2 separate regions of the Homo sapiens genome follow, and region 2 is linked to region 1. Evidence: fine-mapped expression QTL. A gene starts in region 1. The other region holds a variant in brackets. All regions are shown on one strand. Distances are between the middles of the regions. Region 1 holds the start of MYL6 (myosin light chain 6). Region 2 holds the start of ESYT1 (extended synaptotagmin 1).

Region 1 (15,950 bases):
GCCATTGTGGCAGCTGTTCAGGGCAACCTCCTGCCCAGTGCCAGCCCACTGCCAGGTGAGAAGGGGCCAAGAGGGGAGAAGGGTGAGGGAGAGGGGTCCACCTGGAGGGAGGGTGAGCGGGCAGGTGGGGAAGAGGTCAGGTATTAGAGTTTCCACAATCCTTTTTGAACACTCTGGTAAAATTAGAATACAGGAGGAAGGGCCTCTCTGGCCGTCCTCCACCATTCCCCAGCCTGGCAGCTGCCACCTTTGGGATGATGTTGGGGCCTTTCACTGGTGGGTCATGGAGCAATCCTGTGGCAGAGAGCATCTCAGTTGTAAACTTGAAAAGCAGCTGTTTGCATGATGATTGAGTGGCATCCCTTTGCTTATTCCTATCACGTTCAAATGCCCCATATAGAGAGTCTTTCTATATGTTTTTCTGAGTATGAGGTAGAAAAGAGTGTTGGGAACAGAAGTTGAACATTATGGGTACCTCATTCATCCACCCAGCCACTGCATGCCATGCCCGGTTCTGTCTGTCTGTGGTGGTCTGGGTCTGGAGCCATCTCTCCGGCGTACTCTAACTGATTTATCTTCCTTTTCTCCACAGACCCAGGCACCCCCCTGCCTCCAGACCCCACAGCCCCGAGCCCAGGCACGGTCACCCCTGTGCCACCTCCACAGTGAGGAGCCAGCCAGACATCTCTCCCCCTCACCCCCTGTGGACATCACGGTTCCAGGAACAGCCCTTCCCCCACCACTGGGACCCTCCCCAGCCTGGAGAGTTCATCACTACGTAAGGAAAGCTCCTTCCGCCCCTCCAAAGCCCTCACCATGCCTAACAGAGGCATGCATTTTTATATCAGATTATTCAAGGACTTCTGTTTAAAAGATGTTTATAATGTCTGGGAGAGAGGATAGGATGGGAATGCTGCCCTAAAGGAAGGGCTGGTGAAAGGTGTTTATACAAGGTTCTATTAACCACTTCTAAGGGTACACCTCCCTCCAAACTACTGCATTTTCTATGGATTAAAAAAAAAAAAAAAAAGTAGATTTTAAAAAGCCACATTGGAGCTCCCTTCTACCCACTAAAAAATAACCAATTTTTACATTTTTTGAGGGGGAGTGAGTTTTAGGAAAGGGGAATTAAGATTCCAGGGAGAGCTCTGGGGATAGAACAGGGCGCAGATTCCATCTCTCCCCAAGCCCCTTTTTAGTGACTAAGTCAAGGCCCCAACTCCCCTCCCCCACCCTACGCTGAGCTTATTCGAGTTCATTCGTACTAATAATCCCTCCTGCGGCTTCCTCATTGTTGCTGTTTTAGGCCACCCCAGCTCAGCCAATGATTCCTTTCCCTCTGAATGTCAGTTTTGTTTTTAAAAGTCACTTGCTTAGTTGATGTCAGCGTATGTGTATTTGGTGGGGAAAACCTAATTTCGGGGATTTCTGTGGTAGGTAATAGGAGAAGAAAGGGCACTGGGGGCTGTTCTCCTTCCTTCCCTGGGCTGTATCCATGGACTCCTGGAAGGCACAGAGAAGGGAGCTATAAGAGGATGTGAAGTTTTAAAACCTGAAATTGTTTTTTAAAGCACTTAAGCACCTCCATATTATGACTTGGTGGGTCACCCCTTAGCTTCCTCCCTCTCCCACCAAGACTATGAGAACTTCAGCTGATAGCTGGGGGCTCCCCAGATGAGGATGCAGGGATTTGGGAGCAGTGGAAGAGGGTGCCCAACCTTGGGTTGGACCAACCCTTGGCTCGCAGCTCAACTCTGCTTCCCGCATTCCTGCTCCACGTGTCCCAGCTTCTCCCCTGTGACGGGAAGGCAGGTGTGACTCCAGGCTCTGCACTGGTTCTTCTTGGTTCCTCCCACCAGGCCCTTTGTTCCTCATGTCCCCATGTTTCTCTCCCTCTGCGTCTTAGCACCTTTCTTCTGTTCAAAGTTTTCTGTAAATTTTCTCTTTTTTTCTTTCTTTCTTTTTTTTTTTTTTATAAATTAATTTGCTTTCAGTTCCATCTTGTGGGTGCATTCTGTGTTCTTACCTGTGGCTGTCAGGCAGGGGGATTGTGATGGGAGCAGCTTTCCTGGAGTCCTTCACAGCGGCGTTTACCTGGGCCGAAAGACACTCTGCAAGCCACACGGCCTACAGACACTGCGCCTCCCCACAAAACACGAACGGCAGCACAACTGTCGAGACTATGTGCTGGTATAGGAGCAGAGGCTCTCACCTGCCCTAAAAGCTGTTTAAGACTTGGAAGGACATTCCCACAACATGGAATTTTGTATCTCTGTCCCTTCAGAAGTAGTGGTTTCACTCCTTCCCTTATTAGAGAGGAGGCAAGCCCCTTACCTACTTTTGTTATAATTGGCCCTTCACCCTGCTGAGGTGACGGACAGGCTTAGGCAGTGCTAATAATGGCCTGGCTTTAGCTCCAATAAACACTCCACAGGCTTCCCCACAAAAGGCCTTATTGGGAGCTTGGGAGGGCGGGGGCCAGATTTAAGGAGCTGGAAGGGTAGGAGAAGACAGCCTGATATGGAATGGAACAGGGATGGCCAGCCTTAGTCCTACTGGGATCTATGGCTTTCCTAATCTCCCAAGAGGTAGCTTGTGTAAGATGGATGAATGGGGCCAGTAGTTTTTAAATGAAGCCCAGATGGCTAGTACAGGGCCTCCCCCAGCTTTCCTCAACCCCTGCACCATTGATTGACCTTGGACTCTGCCTCAGGGCAGAAATCATCACCATCTCACCTTCTTCCCCTTTACCCTGTTCAGGAAAGAAAGAACCGAACCGAGGGCCCAGAGAGCAAGTTTATTTGGTGAATGCTGACGGCAAACATCATCCAAGAGAGACAAGATGGGAAAGTTGCTGAGACAAGAAAGCCTAGGGAAACTTTAGGCTAGATACAAAATTCACACAGGGAAAGGCACGGACTCTGGGGAGACTGGGAAGGTCCTCAGCCATTCAGCACCATGCGGACGAGCTCTGTGGAAAGGAAAGGTGGGATGAGCCAGGGAACAGGGCTGTGGAGGGGTACGCCAAGGGCCAGGGGACTACCAGACTGCAAAGGTAGCATAAGCGGGAACATGCCCACAGCAACCAACCCTGGGGTCAGTTTGCAGAGGAGCCACCTTGAGTCTGACCAGTTCTCCATGCCCCTAGCTCCCCTCCCAGCAGCTGTTAGTCCCCCACCCAAACCTAAGCAGCAAGAACACAGCAGAGGCAGAAAAGTTCTCCACTACACCTACAGCTACTGTCAGCCACTGGCGGGAGGAGAGGACAGAGTTTTGGGTTAGGGTACCTCCAAGCTGCCCAGCGAGGGAAGGGGAAAGGACTGTTCAGCTATAGCAGCAGAATGGGGCAGGCAACCCATACCCCTCTATGCCAGCTACCCATGCTCCAGGGCCAGAAGGTCACCCTAAAGCAAGACTGGTATACAGGCTGGTGAGAGTTCCCAGACACCAGCACCCAGGGCCGCATAAGTAAAACCTCAGGGCCCATTCTAGAGGTAAGGAGGTACTGTACCCCCAGGTTGTCTTCCTCTTTGAGGAATCCCTCCCCTCCCTAGTCAGCTCCATGCAGAAACATGCCAGGAGGAAGTCAGATGGTAGTAGGGTAAGGGCAGGGGATAAAGAGCACAGGTTGGGGAAAAAAGAAACACTGGGGAGATCAACTAGAGGAGAGGCTGGGAGGAGCCGTACCCGCCCCATGGGCCCGTCACCCCGACAGGATATGCCTCACAAACGCTGCAGGAAGGAAGAGACATTCATGGTGAAGACAAGACAAAGACATGGGGTGAGGGGTCAGGCAGTGGGGACAGACATTCCATTATTTCACTTCTCATTCCTTCCCACCCTCTACAATACTACCCCCTTCCTTTCCTGTTATACCGCCCTGACCTCCCACTCCTGGGCTGGGCTGGGCAGGGCCCTGCACCTTGCCTCCTGGCTCTTTTTGGAGCCCAAGTCCAGGGATAGGGAAAGCCCCAGACACTATACTTGACCTGCCCCATATGGCTGCTTTCTCTGAGAAAGCGCAGTTCACCTCTTACCTTCATAGTTGATACAACCATTGCTGTCCTCATGCCCTGCCACCAGCATCTCTACTTCTTCCTCTGTCATCTTCTCACCTGCAGGGGGAAAGAAAGCATTTTTGGAATTGGGTGACAAGTGAGGTACCTCAGGGTGCCATCTCAGCTCAAGGACAAGGACACAGAACCTTACCCAGTGTGACAAGAACATGCCGGATTTCAGCACCCATGACGGTGCCATTTCCTTCCTTGTCAAACACCCGAAGTCCTTCGACATAATCCTCATAGGTGCCCTGGTCCTTGTTCTTGGCCACTGTCTGCAGCATGGGCAGAAAGTGCTCAAAGTCCAGCACCTTCACATTCATCTCTGCCATAAAGGAGGTGGAAGTGTCAGGCCAGAGAAGTAACACAAGTTCTCAGGACAGGGGATTATAGAGACCTCAACTGAACAGAGAGATGACAGATGACTCCCCACTAAAAGCAAGGAAATCCATGGGATTTGCTAATCCAGACTTGCTTGAGTTTGGGGCCTATGAAGATAAAGGGAAGCTCTTAGCTGAAGAACTGTGGGCCCATGACCACACTGAGGAGTTGTTCTTTAGGCCCCTCACCATCACTCTTGGGGTTCCCCAGGACCTTGAGCACCTCGGCGTTGGTAGGGTTCTGGCCCAGGGCCCTCATCACATCCCCACACTGGCTGTACAGGATCTTGCCATCACCTGTTCGGTCAAACAGCTGGAAGGCCTCCTTGAACTCTGAGGATTCAGATGAATGTCAACACAGGATTTGAGGGTTAATCCAAACCCTACCTCAGAGCTCTGCTGCCCATTCAACTTTGATCATGCTGAGGAAACGAGATATCTGCACCAAACTGTACACCAAAGTCTACTTAAGAGGGCTCTATTTCTCTTCCTCCCAACTCAAGTGTTCTATATAGAGGCTTCCTCCCCTTCTGGCAGCCTGGTAACATCCATTTACACAACCCCTCTGCCTGCGGCAGGCCTGCCAATCTCCACTGCTGCTACTACACTTCTCAGGGCAGGAATTCGCCACCGCCCAGTCTCAGTCCTGTCCTTATAAGGAAGTGGGAGCAGCAGCCTGGGACTAGGGTCATCCCAACCTGCCACTTCGCACCCCTCCAGTATAAAGAGAACTTCCAGAGGGTATAGCTACAGTCATATCCTTAGCAAACTCCCCTGTCTTGTCCCCATCTGCACAGAATATCAGGTCACTGCTCTACAATCTTCACAACTGCAAGCTGGGAGGGCGGGGACAGTTATCACAAGAGGAGAAAAGAGGCAGAAGTAGCTGATTAAAGGACAAAGGAAAGCAGGCAGCTTTATACACCCTCCCGAGACCCCACACACAGCAGGCATTAAGTGACCAAGTTTTTTCACATACCCACACCACCTAAAACTCACCCAGTGCTTGGGATCAGATCTAGAGTGGAAGGGGAGGGAGGAAGAAAGTGAGAAAAGAAAATGGAGGATCCAGAAGAAGAGAAAATAATCCAGGGGGTAATCTCATGGGGGTGCTAAAGAGATGACAGATTAAGATTAGAGGATAGGTGCTGGGGGGAGGGTGTCCCTCTCCCTAAGGGTGACCTCGGTAGGGATCAGAGATAACCTACCTGCGGTCTGGTCTTCGGTGAAGTCACACTGCTCAGAGAAGAGGGAAGTGGTCAGCATCTGAACGCCAATCCCCCGAGTTTCTATCCCAGCCCCACAAACTCTGACCCACAAACTCTGACCCACAAACTCCTGTTTCAGGCTGCAGACTCGCTTCCCCGCAGGGCCCCAGTCTTTCCAACCCCACCTCCAACCTTTCGGGTCCTCAGATTCCCTTTGCCTCCTACCCCTGCCTTCTCCTCGCCCCCCACCCGTCTCTTCCTGCCTCTCGTCCCCAATCCTGCCCGTCTCCCAAGACCTGGGCCCCACCATCTTGACTGCTCAGCTCTCCGGGACCTTTTCCTGCAGTAATGGCTCCGACTCTCGGCCCAACCCTAGTCTTAGTACGTCCCGATGACGTCACCCTCAGAGGACTCAGCCAATAGGAACCGTGGCCTGGGTTTATGCAGACGATTGCTACATTAGTAATGACTTGGGCGGGGTCCGCTGTTCCTTTCTCCAGCGCCACCTGGGCACAGAACCCGCTCGGAGGTGGGGGGGGTCGTGGGGGGAGGTGGGGGGGCGGGGGTCGTGGGGGGACGTGGGCTGGGGCACAATGAATCTGCACCTCCCAACAGCAGGAAGATCAGAGGATTGGAAGAGGAGAGAGCCCTCTTTTCCCGCCCTCTCCTCCTAGCACCCTCCCCGTCTCCCGCTGCTCCCCCAACCATGAAAAAAATAGCAGTCTGAAACCAAGAGAGGAACCCAGTCTTTATTTTGAAACAATAGGTGGCCTCCTGGTGGCTGGAACGTGCTTTCGCCTGCGGGGCCCAGTGTCCGGACCCCACTGGATCTGTGGAAAAAAACCAAAGTTGCGAAGCGCTGGAGCCCGTGCAGCAACCGGACAGCAGAATGAACTCCGCTGCTTTTCTATGTTGGCTGAGAGAAGGGCGGGAGACTTGCCTCGTAAGGCGCGGCGAAGGGGTGGGAGGGCCCTACCTGCAGCACTCAGACGCTTAGGATGTGTTTCAAGAAGGCTGCAGAGAGAGGAGGCAAGAGGGGCTTCAGAAGCAGGCCTTTGGATAATACATCTGACTCTAGGTAATCCAGGGGTGCCCCCGCCCACACGCGGCAAGACGCCAGGCTGCCCTCCTCCCTCGGCCCCGCTCCCGCTTTTTTGTCCCCTCACCCTCGTAGTTGATGCAGCCGTTGCTGTCCTCGTGTCCTGCCAGAACGGTCTCCACCTCCTCCTCAGTCATCTTCTCTCCTGAATCCCAGACACAACGTCTGAGGCCCTCCTTTCCCTCCTTCACTCACCCAGGCCACGCTTTTCCTTTTTTTTTTTGAGACGGAGTTTCGCTCCTGTCGCTCAGGCTGGAGTGCAGTGGAGCGGAGCGATCTCGGCTCACTGCAACCTCCGCCTCCCGTGTTCACGCGATTCTCCTGCCTCACCCTCCCGAGTAGCTGGGATTACAGGCGCCCGGCTAATTTTTTGTATTTTTGGTAGAGACGAGGTTTCGCCATGTTGGGCAGGCTGCTCTCAAACTCTTGACCTCAGGTCATACACCTGCCTCGGCCTCCCAAAGTGCTAGGATTACAGGCGTGAGCCACCGCGCCTGGCTTTTTCCATATATTTTTGTAAACAACAATATAAACATAACAATTGTAATTTTTTTTTTTTTTTTTTGAGATAGGGTCTCCCTCTGTCACCCAGGCTGGAGTGCAGTGACATCATCATGGCTCACTGCAACTTCCACCTCCTGGGCTCCAGTGATTCACATCGGCCTTCGAAGTAGCTGGGACTACAAGCGTGCACCACCACGCCTGGCTAATTTTTAAATTTTTTTGTAGAGACATGGTTTTGCCATGTTGCTCAGGCTGGTCTCGAACTCCTGAGCTCAAATGATCTGCCCATCTCGGCCTCCCAAAATGCTGAGATTACAGGTGTGAGCCACCACGCCCAGCCTTGTACTTTTTTTTTTTTTAAATAGAGATAGAATCTCACTACGTTGCCCAGGCTGGTCTCGAACTCCTGGGCTCAAGCGATCCTCCTGCCTTGGCCTCCCAAAGTGCTAGGATTACAGGAGTGAGCCACTGCTCCCGGCCAGCCCATGCTGTTTTGCTTTTTTTTAAACTGAGTCTTGCTCTATCACCCAGGCTGGAGTACAGTGGCACGGTCTCGGCTCACCGCAACCTCCACCTCCCGGGTTAAAGCGATTCTCCTGCCTTAGCCTACCAAGTAGCTGGGATTACAGGCACCCGCCATCATGCCTGGCTAATTTTTGTGTTTTTAGTAGAGACGAGGTTTCACCATGTTGGCCAGGCTGGTCTTGAACTCCTGATCTCAAGTGATCCGCCTGCCTCGGCTTCCCAAAGTGCTGGGATTACAGGCTTGAGCCACCGTGTCTGGCCTTTTTTTTTTTTTTTGAGACAGAACCTTGCTCTGTCCCCCAGGCTGGAGTACAGTGGCATGATCTCTCGGCTCACTGCAACCTCAGACTCCCGGGTTCCAGCGATTCTCCTGCCTCAGCCTCCTGGGTAGCTGGGATTATAGGTGCGTGCCACCATGCCCGCCTAGTTTTTATATTACTAATAGAGATGGGGTTTTACCATGTTGGCCAGGCCGGTCTCGAACTCCCGAGCTAAGGTGATCCGCCCGCCTTGGTCTCCCAAAATGCTGGGATTACAGGCGTGAGCCACCATACCTGGCCAGGCCACGCTCTTTAGAGTGGTACCTCTTCTTCTCCCATAGCCTCAGTCCTCAAGGGAATCCTCCCCTGGTCATGGATGCCTCTTGCTTTCCATTTCACCCTAGTACTGCTGAAAGTATTGACCCACAAGGAAACAATCCCAGGAGGTTACGAGACTTGTACCAGAACACACAACCCACACGTCTCTTCCAAAATGAAAATTCAGGTTTCCCGCCTCATCCCTTTTCCTCTGCCCTCCGGATGGCACTTTAGCCTCTGGAAGAGCGAGTCCTTCAGATTCTACCCCCATAGCTCTGACCTTCTCAGTCTCCTGCCGACAACCTGCAGGACAGTAAGCCTCCTGCTAGCTCTGCTTATCTGTCCAGTCTTTCTGGCCCACCCCATCCCCCTCTCCACTCTAAAGGAGTTCTGGTCCCCCTTGCCTGCCTCACCAAGGGTGGTGAGAACATGTCTGAGCTCTGCTCCCATGACTTTGCCGTTCCCCTCCTTGTCAAACACACGAAACCCCTCCAAGTAGTCCTCATATGTGCCTTGGCCTCGGTTCTTGGCCACTGCCTGGAGCATGGGCAGGAAAGTCTCAAAGTCCACACGCCGCGACTTCAGCTCTGGAGGTTGGAGAGAGGTAAAGGAGAGGTCATTGTAGTATTACATAGGACCCAGCTCCCAACCCTACCACAATGCTTTCATCCTATTCAGCATTTAGGATATTTTCCTGCTTCTGTGTTTGACAGTTTTTGAAGTCCTGAGATCCACCTCATTCTTTTTGTTACCAACATCCAACTTTTGAAAACTAAAAACCCAAATTGTTCCCAAGGGTCCCCTCACCATCACTCTTGGGGTTCCCCAGGACCTTGAGCACCTCGGCGTTGGTGGGGTTCTGGCCCAGGGCCCTCATCACGTCCCCACACTGGCTGTACAGGATCTTGCCATCCCCCACTCGGTCAAACAGCTCGAAGGCCTCCTTGAACTCTAAAGTATAAGGAAGGGTCAGTGTAGACACTGACTAGGGTTCCCATCACCCCCAGACAGAAGGGAATTTCAGAAACTATGTGAACAGAACAAGGGAGGAAAAGAGGACTAGTATGGGAGGTTTCAAGGTCAGGACTGGGGTTAGGGGAATAGAAAGAGAATCTGACCAGGGGATTGGGGATGGGACAGTGGCCTTAGATGAGCTTCTCCTCACCCTCCAGCTGGTCCTTGTTAAACTCGATCTGTGGAAGAAAAAAGCAGGTGGGGAGAGATGAGAGTTTATTCAATCCCTCTCCCGCACTCCTCCCAACCAACTGGCAGCCACTTCTGAGGAGGGGCCCAAAGGGACCAGGCTGGAAGCCCAGCCACCTCAGTCCCATTCCCAGCTCTGGGCCTTGGGAGAATCCCAAGAAGAGGAATTACAGTGGGGAGGGTTTCCTGGGAACAGGGTTAATCCCATGCCACCTGTTTCCCTCCCTCCATTGCCCTGAGCCCTGCATCCCACACATAACTGGGGGCTGAACAAAGGCTAAATTTACCCCTGGCCCCCAGCTGTGATTGTCTAACAAGTCTGTCCTCTTCAGCCTCCCCTCCTGGAGTTCAGAGCTGCAGGCCTTTTGAATTGAACCACCAGCCAGGGGCAGGCAACAGCTCTCTTCCCTTCACCTTGAAACTGTTCTCAGAACCCAGATGTTCCCCATCTAAGAGTCCCTGCCTCCAGCAGGGGGTAAGTGAGTGTGTATGTGCTGTACACACATGATTATAGGTTAGAGGGAGAGAACAGCAAAGACAACAGCAGAGTCATAAGACTGGATGCTTCCAAATGGGGGACTAAGGGAAAGCCCCAATCTCATTCCAGGGCTCACTGATTCCCTACCTTCTAGATACCCCCTAATCCCCTAGGCTGTATCCCACCCTCAAACCACCCCCTCCAATTCTATCTTCACTTTCCAGAGACTCACCACCACTTTGGAGAGATCGACTGGAGGCTCCTGGGTTTTCTGAGGGGCCTGGGGGACAGCTGGCTCAGCTTTGGTCTTGGCTGGAGGAGCCCCTGCTGCTGCTGGCTTAGCAGCAGGTTTGGAGATGGAGGGCCCTGCTGGTTTCTTCACGGGAACATCCTTCTTGGGAGGCATGATGTCCGGTGGCCAAAGGACAGTGTGCGGATGGGGGCACCCATCTCTGTTTAAATAGCCAGGGAGTCTGGGATGTCAAGGGGCGGGGGCAGGGGCAGGGAGCCAGTTGGCTGTGGCAAAGATGAGGTAGAGGAGAGATATAACCGCCTGCCCTCACTCCCCTGGCCTCCTATGGTTCAGGACTCCTGCCCCAAGGTCTTCTTCCCTCTGTCCCCTTATCCCCAAAGGCTGACCAGAAAAGAACAATGTTTCCTTTAGGGGTAGGGGAGGAAGCCAGAGACTGCCCAGAATGAGGTAGTTAACCTCCAGGGTGAGGATAGGATGCTTGCCAGTGGCACTGAGATGGGGGTGGTGAGGCAAAGCAGGTGATCCAGCAGCTTTAGTCTTCTTGAAGGGTGGGGTGAGGGGTAGCAGCCAGGGAGGCTTGTGTGAACTGGAACAAGTTAAAGTGTGGTCTGGGAGCAATGACAAAAACAAGAAGCCCATCTGCCCAGCCCCTCCACTCCCTTCTGACCATGGCTTTGTAAAGAGCAGGGGTAGTTAACCTTAGAGTCTAATGATCCCTAATACTTGTAGTTCCTGAGCCCCCACCCAGCCAAGAACTGGAACTATTCACAGTATAAAGGAAGAATAGTCATAAAAACAGGAGTATGACATCCCTCATTGTCTCCTGTGCCCAGTGTTGTTTTAGGGGCAGGAGTGGGGGCAAAGATCAGGTTTAACATCTGCTACCCATTCTTCCATGGAAGAAACCTTCCACAAGCCCACGGTCATTCAAGACAAACAAAAGGTAGGGTGCTTGCTGAACCTGTGGGGACCCTTTGGTGGCACCTGAGGAGAAGGGCAGGCTCTGGGAGACGGCTTAAATTCCCTAATCCAAGAGGATGTGGGCGCTCCTATGGCTCCATGAGTATTCACCCCACAACCAGGGGTATAATAAAAATCCTGACTCAGGGGCCAGGTCACAAACCTTGCCAGGGGCGCTGGGAGAGAGTCCAAGTTGGGGGGCGTTTGGGAGTGGGGAGGGATTGCAGGCTACTTTTGTTCTGGGGTAAATTAGGAAAGGATTTAGGTAGCATTCTGAGGAAGATAGCAGTGATTCCACTTAGGCCCCGGGGTTGATGCTGGGTCTCCCATTCGCAAAACAGCGTCTGAATCTCATGACTGCAAATTGTCCCATTTTTACAAAATACATCACACACACACGACACACACACACACACACACACTCACGCACCCCCACTAAATCTTAAAGAAAATGGCCCTCCTCAGCCCCCAAAAACTCACCCTGCGGGGTCCGTGTCTGGGGCTGGGGAGGGGGCGGGGCATAGCGCGGCCCCCAGCCCTGAAGGGTTAATTCCGGTGGCCGCGGAGCATGCCGGGAGTCGTAGTTCCCCGCGGGCTCACGGGATGCGCCGCGCTCTAGATTGCAGTTGACGCGAGGGCGGTGGCTTCCGGCCCATGGCGGTGGTTGGTGACTCAGTGTCCTTCCAGCGCGCTTTATGTCCCGGAACTGAAAGGCAATGAACAATTTCCAATCCACCCCAACCCTAAAAACCCTGCGGGGCCCCTAGGGTATCCCTCCTACTTAACCCTGGCGGGCTCCTAGTCTCGGGAGGTGGAGGGGGCGGGGCGGCTGTTTTCCTGGACCTACTGCTGAAAGAACTCAGAACCTGGGGAAAGATTGAGGCTGCAGCAGGCAGCGTGGAGGTCAGATAGCTGGAAGCACTTAACGGCCCCGGGGAGAACCGCTGCACTCTCTTTTGCTTCCTCTCGCGGTTTGGTAGAAAAAAAAGAGGCCTCAGAGTAGTTTGTTTTTAATGAGCTGGTTGCTGAAGTAAATGTTAAAATTTGCAATTAAGCCCAGTCACCTGCCCCAGCCTTCTCTGATCGAGGTTTCCATCCTGCGGCAGCATATGCGCCATCCTCCTCGATCTTCACAGGTCTCTGAGCGGAGGGCTGGGCTTTCCAGCCCTACTTTCTGAAACTCTTATGGTCAGCATTGGAGTTCACTGGTTCCCCTAGGCGTTGATCAGAGGATGGGAACCAGCCCGGCCGGGCCCACCTTCACTCACTGGATCAGTAAATACCCTGGCGGTGCACCTGGTGTTGGAAGCTGGTGCTGCACAGGCGTGTGAGGATTAGATCAGAGCAGAAAACTCGGGCGATGGCAGGGTGGTGAGGCACAGGTGAACTTTATGGGCAGTAAGTGAGGTTCACTGGTTGGGGAAAGTTTATTGGAAAGGTAGAAATGAATTGTACGACAGAAATAACGATAATAGTAAGTTAGCAACCATTTCTGGAGGCCGCCATAGATCTCGTACCGGTGAAGGGGCTAAATTATCTCAGAGGGTGCTCAAGTGGATGGGGTTCAGACAGCCTACTCAGATTTAAATCCTGGTTCTACCAGGTCCTAGTTAGTGACCCTCAGCAGGTTTAGTTATCTCTCCTGGGCCTCAGTTCCTCATCTGTAAAATAATGATAATGGTACCTACCTCATAGGGCTCTTCGGAGGATTCGAAGTGTTATTATTGGTAAAATAGGGCCGGGCTTGGTGGCTCACACCTCCCAGCACTTTGGGAGGCGAGGCAGGTGGGTCACCTGAGGTCAGGAGTTCGAGACCAGCCTGGCCAACATGGTGAAACCCTGTCACTACTAAAAATACAAAAAAAAAAAAAAAAAAAAAAAAAAAAAAAAATAGCTGGGCCTGGTGGCGGGCGCCTGTAATCTCAGTTACTTGGGAGGCTGAGGTCGGAGAATCACTTGAACCCGGCAGGTTGCAGTGAGCCGAGATCGCACCACTGCACTCCAGCCTGGGTGACAGAGTGAGACTCCAACTCAAAAAAAAAAAAAAGTGTAAAATAGAATAGGCCTGGCACAGCATAAGTGCTGTATAAGTTTTTGTTAAATAACTTTCCTTTAATCTTCCCAAGGTATGAGGTCGCTGATATTTTCCCCATTTTACATCAATGAAGTAAGGATCAATAGGTGTTGTGAAGAGACGGAGAGGAAGAAGGAATACATTTTTAAGTGGTTATAAGACTGGGAAAGGGCCACATTATAGATGCCTTTGTGTGGCTTTCATTACTTTTGCAGACATTGATTTCAAAATATGGCTCTTGTAATTTTTTTTCTTTCCTTTTCCCATTTTTGGCATTTTGCCAAGTATGAGTGGTTATGGCATCATCTGACTTTCTAGCATTTTCTATAGAGAAGTAGTACAGGGAAAAAACGTTAAGACCCTTGCAGAGATGGGAAGGCTATCCTTCATTTTCTGTGCCATCCCTGTCTTGATCATAAATAACAGGAACTGGACGAAACATGGTCTTAACTGGGCATAGGGTGATTATATATGTGAATTATCTGTGAGAAATGCCTGTCTCTCCTCTCTCCTCTCCCTGCTTAGCATGTGATTTGTATATTCTTATTTTTCTTTGGTTTTGTTTTTTTCTAGAAATGAGGTCTCACTGTGTTACCCAGTCTCAAACTGAGCTCAAGTGATCTTCCCATCTCAGGTGCCTCCCAAAGTGCTGGGATTATAGGTATGACCTACCTTGACTGGCCTGTATATTCTTAGAGATTGCATTTTGTGGGCAGGGAGGGAGGTGAGTCCGAAGCTTGCTTGCCTTCCCTAGGCATGCCGTCCTCCAGGAACCTCCACATGTTCAGCTGTCCAGAGTGGCCCATTAGATTGAAAGAATATGGAAAGCCATTGGGGAGCTGTTCCGCAGTGCACAGGTCTATGCACACTTACCCCCAAAGTCCAAGGAAGCTAAGAGGTTGAGGAAGGAGGCTGACAAATCCAGTTTCTTAGAAATATTTAATAGGAATTTATGAACAGAAGCCATGTCTGTGTCTTGGGTAGTGGTGAGACACGATGGTGGATCCCCAGGACATCATCCCCTGGAGTAAGTCCTGACCCCAGGACTTACCACAGGGAAGGAACCTCTAGGACAATTGAAGTCTACCCTGCAGGGAAAGGCAAGAATACTCAGTAAGCCAGGCTTTATGATCAAGATTGTTTTGATCTAAGGAGAAATTATGGTAAGTACATGCTCTTACACAAAGAACAGTAGATAAAATAGAAATCTTAGAGGCATTCCCAAAACTGGGGTTAATCAGACATGAACATTCCCAGCACTTTGGGAGTCCAAAGTGGGAAGATCACTTGAGCCCAGAAGTTCAAGACCAGCCATGGCAACATAGCAAGAGACCCCAACTCTACAAAAAAAATTCAAAAATTAGCCAGGCATGGTGGCACGTGTGCCTCTGATCCCAGCTATTCAGGAGCCTGAGGTGGGAGGATCACTTGGGCCCAGTAGGTCAAGGCTGCAGTGAGCCATGTTTGTGCCACTGCCCTCCAGCCTGGGCAACAGAGTGAGACCCTGTCCTTAAAAAATTTTTTAAAAAAAGCAGGCCGGGCGTAGTGGCTCATTCCTGTAATCCCAACACTTTGGGAGGCCAAGGAAGGTGGATCACCTGAGGTCAGGAGTTTGAGACCAGCGTGGCCAACATGGTGAAACCCTGTCTCTACTAAAAATACAAAAATTAGCCAGGCGTGGTGGCAGGCGCCTGCAATCTCAGCTACTTGGGAGCCTGAGGCATGAGAATCCCAGGAGGCGGAGGTTGCAGTGAGCTGAGATTGTGCCACTGCACTCCAGCATGGGCAACAGAGGGTGACTCCATCTAAAAAAAAAAAGAGAAAGGCTGAGCGCCGTGGCTCATGCCTGTAATCCCAGCACTTTGGGAGGCCGAGGTGGGCGGATCATCTGAGGTCGGGAGTTCGAGACAAGCCTGACCAACATGGAGAAACCCTGTCTCTACTAAAAATACAAAATTAGCCAGACGTGGTGGTGTATGCCTGTAATCCCAGCTACTCAGGAAGGCTGAAGCAGGAGATTCGCTTGAACCCGGGAGGTGGAGGTTGTGGTGAGCCGAGATCATGCCATTACACTCCAGCCTGGGCAACAAGAGTGAAATTCTGTACCCCCCTAAAAAAAAAAAAAAAAAAAAAAAGAAAGGTGGAATGGGTGGGAAGTGTTATGTGGAAATAGGCTCCCAGAGAGCACAGTGGAAAAGGTTGAGAGGAAGAGAAGCAGAAGGAGATTGTATTAGGGCCCTTTAGCTGCTCTCTTCAAGCATGTTTATTCAGTATACGTTCCTTTTTGTGTTTTGTTTGGGAGACAGGAGTCTTGCTCTGTGGCCCAGGCTGGAGTGCAGTGGTGCATCTTAGCTCACTGCAACCTCCACCTCCTGGTTTCAAGTGATTCTCATGCCTCAGCCTCCCAAGTAGCTGGGATTACAGGTGTGTGCCACCATACCTGGCTAATTTTTTTTTTGTATTGTTAGTAGGGATAAGGTTTTGCCATGTTGGCCAGGGTGGTCTCGAACTCCTGACAGGTGAGCCACCGCCTTGGCCTCCCAAAGTGCTGGAATTATAGGCATGAGCCATTGCGCCCGGCCTCTGTATACATTTCCTTTCCTCTCCCCCGAGAAACAGGGGCTTGCTCT
Region 2 (10,581 bases), 31 kb after region 1:
TTATTGAGCCATTCAGCCTTTTCCACGTCTGGGAAGCTGACCTGGAGGTGGGGAAGGCAGAGACAGTGACGTGCAGCACACCCTCGCCTCTGGTTTCCTACTAAGATGCTGGTGGTGTGCCACAGAGGAGAGGGAGTGTGTGTGACTCCTCACACTCAGGGTGGGCGAGGGGCGAGGATGCCCCAAAGGTTCATTCCTCACAGAGTTTGGGGGCTGATGTCTCTCTAATAAGGGGAGCTGACAAGGTAGAGGTCACGCTGTTGCCCTGTGGATAGCTCAGGGACGTGGTGAAATGACAGCTGCTGAGAGAGAGAGGAGCGGGAGGAGGAGAAGGGCGCATTCTTTCTGGAGGGGGAGGTCCAGTCAAATTGGAGTTTGAGGGAATCCTGGGATTTAAAAAGTCCTGGTTCCAGGCTGGCCGCGGTGGCTCGCATCTGTAATCCCAGCACTTTGGGAGGCCGAGGCCGGCGGATCACGAGGTCAGGAGTTCGACACCAGCCTGACCAGCATGGTGAAACCCTGTCTCTACTAAAAATACAAAATTAGCCGGGCGTGGTGGCGCGTGACTGTAATCCCAGCTACCCAGGAGGCTGAGGCAGGAGAATCGCTTGAAGAGGCAGAGGTTGCAGTGTGCCAAGTTCGGGCCACTGCACTCCAGCTTGGCAACAGAGCGAGACTCCGTCTCAAAAAAGAAAAAAAAAAAAGTCCCCTTTTCCAGCCTTCTCAACTCCCCTCAGACGGGGCTTCTAGAGCAGGAAGGTGAAGAGGGAAGCAAGTCCTTCCTTGAGTCAGGGAGGGGCCAGAAGACCTAATTAGGCCTGGCTTTGTGGGTTTTTTGGGGTGTGTGTGTGTGTTTTCCTCTATCTTTCTCTGTGTGACTCCTTTTAAGGGAAAGGACACCTGCGCTTTGTATTGGGGGTAGGAAGATTGGTTTCCATGATGATGAGGAGGAGACAAACACTTGCTGCCTAGGCTACAGGTCCCCTAGAGCCATTTGGCCCTCTTTCTCCTCCCCTTTCCAGTCCAGGGCCTGGGAAGCTTGGCTGTGTCTGTCTAGTGTCAATTTTGATTCCTCTCTGCTGCCATTCTCCCCCTAGACTGGCACCTCTGCTGGGAGGGGCCGGGTAACCGGCTTCGCCTCTGCAAGACTAGAGAGAAGGCATCCGCCTCAGCACAGGAGACGCGGCCGCCGCAGAAATAAGGGTCTCTGCCCCAACGGAACAAGCGCAGCCCACAGTCCGGAAAAGGGTGTGGCCGGCCGAGGAGTGCGGGGGAGTGTGCGCCGCGGGCACTGCAGCAGCCGCACCACCTCCTCCCGTAGCCCTCCCTCCGTCCAGCAGCCGCCTCTGCCGCGCTGCAGTCTGGCGGCTGGAGGCTTGAAGGTGGCTGCCCGAGGGTCGTCCAGGGGCCGGGGCTGGGTCCTAGCGGGTACCCGGGGATAAAAGCGAGAAAAGAGAGAACCGTATGGCTTTAAGTAGGTAAAAAGTCTCGAGGAGGATGGGAAAGACTAGGGAAACCTTTGAGAGGTAACGGGACCAGGATTTCCAGGAGCAGCAAAGCCGCGAGTGGCACCAAAAGCAAGAGGGACGTTCAAGATGGCTTGGCTAGGAGGGAGAGCTTCGGCTGAGACGGGGTCCCCAGATGTTATTACTGCTGTTGCCCAAGTAGAGGAAGAAGTCCTGATTCTGTGGAAGGATCCAGTCTGGGCATGCGAAAGGGTGGGTGGGGAGAGTGAGCAGTCGGTTCCAAGAGTGGCGCGTCCAGCAGGCAGGCGGCTAGCGGGGAGAGAGGGGAAAGTCTGGGGCCCACTGTCCCAAGGCAGGGAGCTGACTCTAGGCATAAGGAGGAAAAGCCCCAGATGGAAGGGGTGGAAGGGGGCTATGCTGCACAGAGGACCGAGGGTGGTCGCTCACCCAGGCAGGTAGCTCTCGATGACTCATATAGAGAGTTTTCGCAGTGAGCTGCTCCTCGTCGTCCAGTAGCTGCCTCGCTGCTCGAAGGCTCCGTTCTTTCTCGTCGCGGACCCGGCGCCAGCCCAGGTAGAGGGCGAGGCCGAAGAGCACGAAACCCACGCTGAGTCCCACTGCCCCGGCCAAATACACAGGTATCAGCACCAGCAACCGCCTCCCGAATGAAGTCAGCACCGCCAGGGCCTCACCCGCCGCGCCAGGGCCAGCAGGTTGGCCCCCAGAACCTGGGTCTGGCTTTGCGTGAGCAGCGGGGGGCTGGTCAGTGGGGTCGGAGGGAGCAGAGGGCTGGTCCATGGGGCTGGGGCTGGGGCCCTCTCCTGGAGATCGCTCCATTGTGCCACCTCTGGGAGGATCCGCCCGACCCAGGGACTGGCTGGAGGTTGCCTAGTCTTGCGATCAGCTCCCCCAGGCAAAACGTGATCCCCGGGATGGAGGAGGGGACTTCAAGCCACGCCCCTCCTTTCTGGCGATTTGGGTTGGTCCGCGCTGCACAGACCAAGGTGGAGTTAAAAGGTTGAAACTCCACCCCTCTTCCGCGGGGAACGGACCGGGTTTCGGATAGGTAGGGCCTCCCTGATTGGGCCCGAAGGCCAAGATGGGAGGTCTGAGATGGCGGGAAAAGGAAGAAAGGGGCTCAGGGGCGGCATTCGATTGGTAATAAAGAGGAGGAGGCGTGGCGCACCATTTCAGGAGAGGCGGGACCAAGAGCTCCCCCACGTGGGATTGGAGTGCCTGTGGTATGACGTCATGCAGAGCTGCACCGCCAATTTCTTGGTTTTGGAGAAAGCCCAAGTTGCGAAGTTGAGGGGTTGTGGAGCTTCAGGATTTCCCTCTACTCATTCGGTTTGGCAGGATTTGGTCTGGGATATATATATATGTTCTTTTGCCGACTTTCTCTAGTTTTCATACTCTAAGCACATTCCTTATCCTTCAACTTTTTCCTGCCTGCCCTTACAAAAGGAAAGGATACGATCGTATTTGGAATGAAAGTGTTTGAAAACTAACCCCGTCTATCCCGTCCCTAATCCCCTACCTTCTTTGTGTGGTGTAACGACTGACCCTGGAGAAAACTGGAGAGTCAGAGAATTACAGAGTTGAGATAATCCAGCCTTCAGGGAAAGGGGGAAAAAAAGCAGAGTGAATAGAAAGTGAGGCTTTATTTCTTTTTGGAAATTTCCAAGAGTTAGTAAGTCATCTCTATCTTAGAGGATGGATGTAAGACTAGTTGGCTCCAAAAGGGAGGGAGGCAGCGCAAATTATTACATTTTCCAATAATTTTCTGACCCTGAAGAACTTCTAGGACACTAAAATGAGGGATCAAGAGTAAGGGAAAGACAATTCCTTTTCACATTTGCCTGAGTTAGAAGGAAGGTTTGCCATACAGTCAGGTGCAGAACTAGTGCAGTCCCACAGTGTACGGTGTAGGTTTAGGAAGGAAAAAGTGCAGGGTACACCGATGACTATTGTTACTAGTTAACTGGCGTTAGAGGTGGAGTGTTGTCCTAGGATCTAGGAACTAGACTAATTGGAAGTTGATGAGGGAAGTGTTGGTCATAAGATGATTACCTTTTAATGCAGTATATATGGGGCATATTATGTAAATCTGTCAGATGCAGCAGAAGAACTGGGGTTGATCACTGGGAAGAAACTAGCCATTTCTTAGAGGAAGTGTCTTACAGGATGAGGCCTGCAGCTGATAAATTTTATCTGGTTCTGCAGGGCATAGATTTCATCAGCCTGTGTTTACCAAAGCTGCTTAAAACCTGTCCCTGCTCAGCCTCTATCACTTAAATTTTTTCACTTCCTTTTCTCTACTTCCCTAGGGCTAGCAGTATCTTGACTGCTTCATTCAGTTTGCAGAACTATTTAAGAAACAATATTCTGTCTCCTATATCCTCCATATTCCCAGAGGTAAGCAGGTAGAAAAGGGAAACAAGGAAATTGGAGGAATTATGAGTGACCTGCTCACCAACTGATAAAGCAGAACTACAGAAGGAACATGGATGAACCTTAGAGAGAAACCTCTCTATAAACTGAAATTTGCCAAGCACTGGAGTAGGCAAGGAGGTTCCTGAGAATGGGGGAATGGAGAGGGTGACCTATGGAGGTTCTTTTCCAAACTTCTCCCTTCCTCACCTCATCCAGATCATCAGAAATTATATAGGGGATAAAACTTCATCCTCAGGAAGTTCTTGTCCCAGCTGGGGCCCAGGAGCCACAGGATCAGCAGCTGCAATGCAGTTACCAACACAAGTAAACAGGGTGGGTCCCCGCCCACTGACAATTCTGCTGCCCAGGTGCCACCTGGTGGTGATAAGCAGTAAGTGGACAACAGGAAGGGATG[C/G]CCATTTGTTAGAGGAAGTGTCTTACAGGATGAGGCCTACAGGAGGAGAGAGAGTAAACTTCCTGGACTTGCAATCTGCATTTATATGTAAACCATAATCACCTCCAAGAGGCAGAGGGTGAGATACGGTACTCTGATCTCAGCTCACAAAGATGGGAAGGGCAACAAGATTTGAGGAAACTCCTTCTGTATTCTTTATTCCTCAAAAGTTACTGCCAAGCCAGTCGCGGTGGCTCATGCCTGTAATCCCAGCACTTTGGAAGGCCGAGGCAGTTGGATCACCTGAGGTCAGGAGTTCAAGACCAGCCTGGCCAACATGGCGAAACCCCGTCTCTACTAAAAATACAAAAATTAGCCGAGCATGGTGGCATGTACCTGTAATCCCAGTTACTCTACTTGGGAGGCTGAGGCAGGAGAATCACTTGAACCCGAGAGGCGGAGGCTGCAGTGGGCCGAGATCACGCCACTACACTCCAGCCTGGGCAACAGAGTGATACTCCGTCTCAAAAAAAAAAAAAAAAAATTACTGCCAAGTAGTGATCGCTTTGTTGGATGGCTATATCATTAGAACTTTCTTTTGTCGTCTGGAGTGAGACTGCCTGAATAGATTCCTGGCCCCATTCCTTACTTGCAGAACCCTGGGCAGGTTACTTTTTAAGCCTGCTTTCTCCTCTGTAAAATGGGTACAATAATATTACCCATTGTGTCAATGAGATGTTGCATGTAAAGTGCCTAGCACAGAGCCTTGGCTTATATTAAGCAGTCAACAAATGCTAGCCGGCTGGGTGCGGTGGCTCAACGCCTGTAATCCCAGCACTTTGGGAGGCCGAGGTGGGCGGATCACGAGGTCAGGATATGGAGACCGTCCTGGCTAACACGGTGAAACCCCGTCTCTACTAAAAATACAAAAAGAAAATTAGCTGGGCACCTATAGTCCCAGCTACTCTGGAGGCTGAGGCAGCAGAATGGCGTAAACCCTGGAGGCAGAGTTTGCAGTGAGCAGAGATCGTGCCACTGCACTGAAGCCTGGGCCACACAGCTAGACTCCGTCTCAAAAAAAAAAAAAAAAAAAAAGTTAGCCATTATTCTAGAAATCCCTTTTTACTTCCTGTGTAGCAAACAGGATCTTCCTCCACTGGGCAGCCCTTCAAATATTTGAAGACTTCTATTTGAAGCTTTCTCTTGCCAGCCTTTTTTTTCTAGCAACACACTGGTTTGTCAATGGCCCTCTTTAAAAATTACATTTAGAACAACACACTACTAAGTGGTTACACTTAGGCAGAACATAGAACTGCTGTATTTGTAATCTATTACCAAGGTTCTACTACCCTTATGGAGCTCCTAGAAAGATGCCTAGAACATAGCAGGCTCTTAATAAATATTTATAAATGGACATCTTGAGGGCTAAGATTCTATTTTTTTGCAGCCAACTGGAAGTCCCAGTTTGTTCTCATGTGAATTATTGCTAATATAAATCTCTAACATTGTTCCTCAAACTAGTTCAAGATCTAAGCAATTTTTTAGTGTGAGAGTGCTCCAGTGTTTTAGTCAATTCAAGTTACAGACACTTTGAATATTATTTAGCTCTTCCTGTGTTACTGTTGATAAATGGGTTTTTTACATGTTTACCCGAGTTGGGTTTTTTCTTTTTACAATAAAACATAGCCCTTGGGCTTATCACTAGAGAACAGAGATTTCTCTAACATAAATGCGCTAACCAACACTAAGTACAAGTGTTCAGTTTGATTCTACCAAATGCTACTATTTTTTTCTCATTATTTTTTAACCAGAGCCATTTGCATGGAAAAAATGCTACGATTAACTGACCCGTAATTTTCCTCTTATCTGTGATGACTTAGCAGGTGAGAGAGAGGAAAGTAGCTCCTGTAATCTGGGAACTGGCCTGACACAGCCAGGCTTCAGAGCTGTTAGGGCTGACCTGGTGCTCACAGGTAGCCAATGAGTTCTCTTGGACACAAACAATCTCACAAAACACCAGCATCAGACAAGGTCACTCAGTGACTGCGATGAAGTGAGACAAAAAACAAAATCACTACACAATTTTGTTTAAGCACAAAACAAGGTCAGTGTGCAAACCACAAAACAGCAAACATCCCCTTTCCCAGCTAGTGAGTGACTTCATCATCGACTGTGCTTAGGTTCACTTGTCTGCCCTTCTTCTAGACAAGCTACCCAATTATCCTGGATTCCCTTAACAGCACCCAATCCAAAAGAACACCCACTTTCTTGAATCTTCCCCAAAATCACTTAACCAAAGTCTAAGTTCTCTAAGTCGTTCCTAACACCCTCATGCTGAGACACACCACGTTATCCCCAATGGTGAGCCCTCCCCCTCACTGCAATGAGCATTAAACCCAACTTGCTCAATTACCAGGTGTATTCTTGGTGGTCTTCAGCTGGAGTAAATACATACAAGACATACAATGTCTAAAATTTCCCAAATCTACCTCTTTGGAGATAACCTGGCAAGGAGGAAATAAAGTCAGTCAGGATTTGACTGAGAATTCATGTTGGTATCTATGGTTACATTCTTCTCTAAATGCTCTTAAACCATCTCTTTTAATAGTCTAGAATTGCCGGGCACGGTGGTTCATGCCTGTAATCCCAGCACTTTGGGAGGCTGAGGCGGGCGGATCACGAGAGATAGAGACCATTCTGGCCAACACGATGAAACCCCGTCTCTACTAAAAATAAAAAAATTAGCCGGGCGTGGTGGCGGGCGCCTGTAGTCTCAGCTACTCGGGAGGCTGACGCAAGAGAATCGCTTGAACCCAGGAGGCGCAGGTTACAGTGAACCGAGATTGCGCCACTGCACTCCGGTCTGGTGACTGGGCAAGACTCCATCTCAAAAAAAAAAAAAAAAATTGTGTCCCAAAAAACATTAAGCTTATCAATGTGTTGTTTCTAAAATCCACAATGTTAGCCCACTTTTAGTCTTTAGGCTTTTTTTTTTAATGACTGGCCTTGACCTAGCCCACCATCTCCAATCCCAGATGTGACCTGAGTGATCAACCAGACAAGAAAGCAAGAGGTAGCAGGAGACATGATGAGGGGGAACACAATCCAGGATCACTCTCTACCCCCAAATCTACTGTCCCATTAGACTAGACACCTGAGTTGTTTTCCCTACATCAGCCGTGAGCTGAGGAGGAACTGAGGTTTGACTATTGGGGCCCCTGGCCTTACTGACTTAAGTAGATTTAAAACTTCTGGTCCTATGTGGAGACAGAGGAAAGGGATGGACCCTGAGGCTTGTGTCCCTAGAAGGACTCTCTTTTCCCAGACCTCCCAAGCCTTGAAGGCTTCAGGAACTGGCCACTGAAGGGGTGGGGTAGGAGGGACATTAACTGCCATCAACTGAGCGGCAACTGCCATCAACTCAATGGCCATCAACTCCACCTGTCCTGCTCTGTTTGAATAAGGATCTGTCAACTATGTAACATCCCATCCGCATTTCAGCAAATACACTCTCCTTACTGCCTGCCCTGCTAAATGACCCTAGGAGCCCTGGTTACTGAGGCAACCTGGGAATAGCACATACAGACAGAGACCAGAAACAGATGGGACTATTTTTAAAACTAGACTGGGTGGCTCCAAAGCTTTTACCCCATAAAGTGCCTTCCCCAAAGCCCCATTTGGTCTTGTTCTGGGTCCCTACCCTTCTTCACTGGCTTCTATCCATCTTACCAAAGCTATGTGAGGCTGGGGTCTTTATCCCATTTTGGCATGAGATCTATTTACTGCTCCCATCTTCCACACAGAATAGCTAAGCAAGTTTTCACTGCCTCCATTTGTTAAAAATAATTGTTCTTTTATTTCTTTGGAAAGTAGTGGGCCCTGCCCTATGGATTTTCAGGTCAAACTAGGGTAATGAATGCTCCCCTAGTCTTTGGGCTGGAGCACTATGGTCCCAGCTTTCCCAGGGCCCAGAAGCAATTCCTGTATTGTCCAACCCAAGCAACTAGGACCCAAATTGTCTGAAGGCTCCTATCAGGCCTTCTCTCCTGACCACCCACTTCCCAATCTTTCCTGGCTTTCCCTCTGGGCAGGGTATTTTTTTCTTCTAAAACCAGTGCTGGAACCTGTGCTGTGCAGAAGAGAGGACAAGACGAGGGATGTTCCCAAATTCCCATAAGAGGACACAGCCCCTCAGTCAGTCCTTCCTCTCTGCTGGCTTCAGTCTGCACTCCTCTGCAAGCCCCCACTGTGAGGCTTGAAGATGGACAAGAGGACCCTCATAAAAGGGAGGTGAGAGAAAACACACCATCCCAACCCCTCCTCAGGACATACTCCTTGTAGTCTCTTGTCCTAGTTCTCAAGGGAGCCCTTCAGACAGGGATGGGGAAGGCTAGGTGAGTGGGCAAGGGCCCCCTGACCCCAGCCCTGCGAGGCTATACCAGGGGAGTGTCCATTAGCCCCATCAGTGTGGCATGGCCGTGATGCGCATGCTCTGGGAAGCGATAGGGTAAGTCACCATGGGAGTGGTGGTGTGGCTCATTGTGATTCCTGCCAAGGGTTGGGCCATCGATACAGCCACAGGGGCCACAGGAGCCACAGATACAGCCACAGGAGCCATGGAGACAGGTGGAGGTGCCATTCCCTGGGCAATTGTTTGAGCCAGGGCAGCTGACAGTGGCGTGATCTCTGGGGTCAAGTGTGGGGGTGGGGGTGGTGGAGCAGCAGGAGGTGCAGCATTAGTTGGGGGAGCAGCTGGAGCTCCAGCAGGGGCCACCAGTTCTTGCTGGGACACTGGACGAGGCTGTAGAGCCTGGCTGCTGAGAGTAGTGTGAGTCTGGGCAATGCCATGGTTAAAAGTGGCAACAGTGCCCACAGTGGGGGCCAGAGTCTGCTCAGTCGCTGGTGCAGTGGAGCTCAGGGTTATGACCTTGGCCTGATTGCGGAACTGAGCATTTTGTTCCAGTAGTACCTCATTGGTGGCCAGCAGGTTGCTGACCTGCTTCTTTAACTCCTCTACCCGCTTCCTGAGCATGGCATTCTCCTCCTCTAGCAGTCTGCACTCCACCCCTCGCGGTGGAGCCAAACTATATTCATATGACTCAAAATGAGGGCCATCAGGGGGGCAGCATCCACCTCGCCGGCGTTTTGGGCCTGGCTCATGGTCCTCAAAGCCCCTGTCAGGAAGGTCATAGATATCATAGAGATCATGACGTCGTCCTGGGAGGACTGAGCCTGTTGAGCCCCCACCAGTGCCTCCTCCACCCCGAGCATCAAACTCAAAATCCCGTTGCAGGTGACGGAACTTGCACTTGGCTCCTCTCTGACAGTCACCCTTGAGAAAGTCACGGCAGATAGGGACCTCCTCCTTGCCATTTGGTAGGTCAGCCGGTGAAAGGCCAAGGCCAGCTGCTACTTTCTGCCTCAGCCGTGGGGGAAGCTCTCCTGTCTTCTTATAGCCATCCTCATCCTCCTTGGAGCCATGGATGAAACGGCAATTTGGGCGGCTACACTCCTTGTTCTGGAAGTCATGGCAGAAGATGAACTCGTTTTTGCTCACCCCCAAGTTGGACACCTCGCTCATGTCTGGGTGGCGATATCGGCAACGCTTGCCTCGCTTGCACACATTCCTCAAGAAGTCTCTACAGATGGCATCTGAGCTGGCCCCGCCACTGCCTACCCCTGCCCCACTGGCCTCCTCGCTGCCACCACCTCCAGGGCCTCCACCGCTGCTCCCGGTACCGTTGGCATAGCTGTCCCGGTCAGGCATCCTGGTCCCGCCCAACTCAGGGTTTTCTTTATCTTGCCACTCTTGGTGACCACTACAAAAGAGGAGAACTGTATCAAACAGGAGTCCTCCAGGGAGATCCCACTCTTCCTGACTATAAAGCAGGTGGCCCAGAGGGGCAATGGCTTTAGAGATGGAGAATCTAAGGGATAAGAATTCTGGCTGAAATGTCTGACTCATCAAAAGCCCCTCCCAGGGTTTTGTGCACCTGGTCTGGGTCAGAATGATTCACACTTGCCTGGCTAACGGAGGAGGGATAGGCCCAGGACGGAGCAGGGAAAAAATAGTGTTGGAATTCATCTTTCCTTTTGAGCTGACCTTATTAAAGTTGTGGAAGTGAAATTAAAACTGCAGTCAGTATCTGAATAGTCTGGAAGGAAACTGGGAATAGTGCCCAAGATGGGCTACTGAGCTACTAGGGCTGTAGAAGATGGGACACTGGTAACAAAACTTCCTTAACCCCCTTTCCTTTTCCTCAGGTAAGGGCTCTGTACACATCAAAT

Evidence for each region. PIP is the estimated chance that this variant, and not a neighbour inherited with it, causes the effect.
Region 2: its variant is fine-mapped to the expression of MYL6 in whole blood (TOPMed, PIP above 0.99).

The regions. Positions count from the first base shown.
Region 1 is chr12:56,148,408-56,164,357 of GRCh38, reverse strand. MYL6 (myosin light chain 6) reads right to left here and starts at 5,999. Exons shown (of 7, transcript NM_021019.5): 1 at 5,954-5,999; 2 at 5,647-5,674; 3 at 4,628-4,771; 4 at 4,210-4,383; 5 at 4,038-4,115; 6 at 3,688-3,732; 7 at 2,779-2,971. The coding sequence starts at 5,956. The coding sequence ends at 3,704. MYL6B (myosin light chain 6B) reads right to left here and starts at 11,771. Exons shown (of 8, transcript NM_002475.5): 1 at 11,727-11,771; 2 at 10,266-10,485; 3 at 9,518-9,545; 4 at 9,160-9,303; 5 at 8,766-8,939; 6 at 6,813-6,890; 7 at 6,623-6,660; 8 at 6,376-6,476. The coding sequence starts at 10,439. The coding sequence ends at 6,632. It overlaps MYL6B-AS1 (MYL6B antisense RNA 1), which reads left to right and starts at 6,133. Exons shown (of 3, transcript NR_186043.1): 1 at 6,133-6,175; 2 at 6,413-6,724; 3 at 13,373-13,562. SMARCC2 (SWI/SNF related BAF chromatin remodeling complex subunit C2) reads left to right here. Exons shown (of 29, transcript NM_001330288.2): 28 at 1-55; 29 at 593-1,999. The coding sequence ends at 669. It also overlaps LOC124902942 and LOC124902943. RefSeq lists enhancers at 2,487-3,107, 3,108-3,730, 4,701-4,770, 4,811-4,880, 6,891-7,000 and 1 more and silencers at 5,551-5,730, 6,101-6,270.
Region 2 is chr12:56,120,042-56,130,622 of GRCh38, reverse strand. It overlaps ZC3H10 (zinc finger CCCH-type containing 10), which reads right to left. Exons shown (of 3, transcript NM_032786.3): 3 at 3,109-10,112. The coding sequence starts at 10,060. The coding sequence ends at 8,756. ESYT1 (extended synaptotagmin 1) reads right to left here and starts at 2,356. Exons shown (of 31, transcript NM_015292.3): 1 at 1,914-2,356; 2 at 1-41. The coding sequence starts at 2,303. RefSeq lists enhancers at 1,308-1,367, 1,548-1,647, 1,968-2,217, 2,023-2,684, 4,124-4,383 and 1 more and a silencer at 2,418-2,487. The variant C/G (reference allele first, on the strand shown) is at 4,315.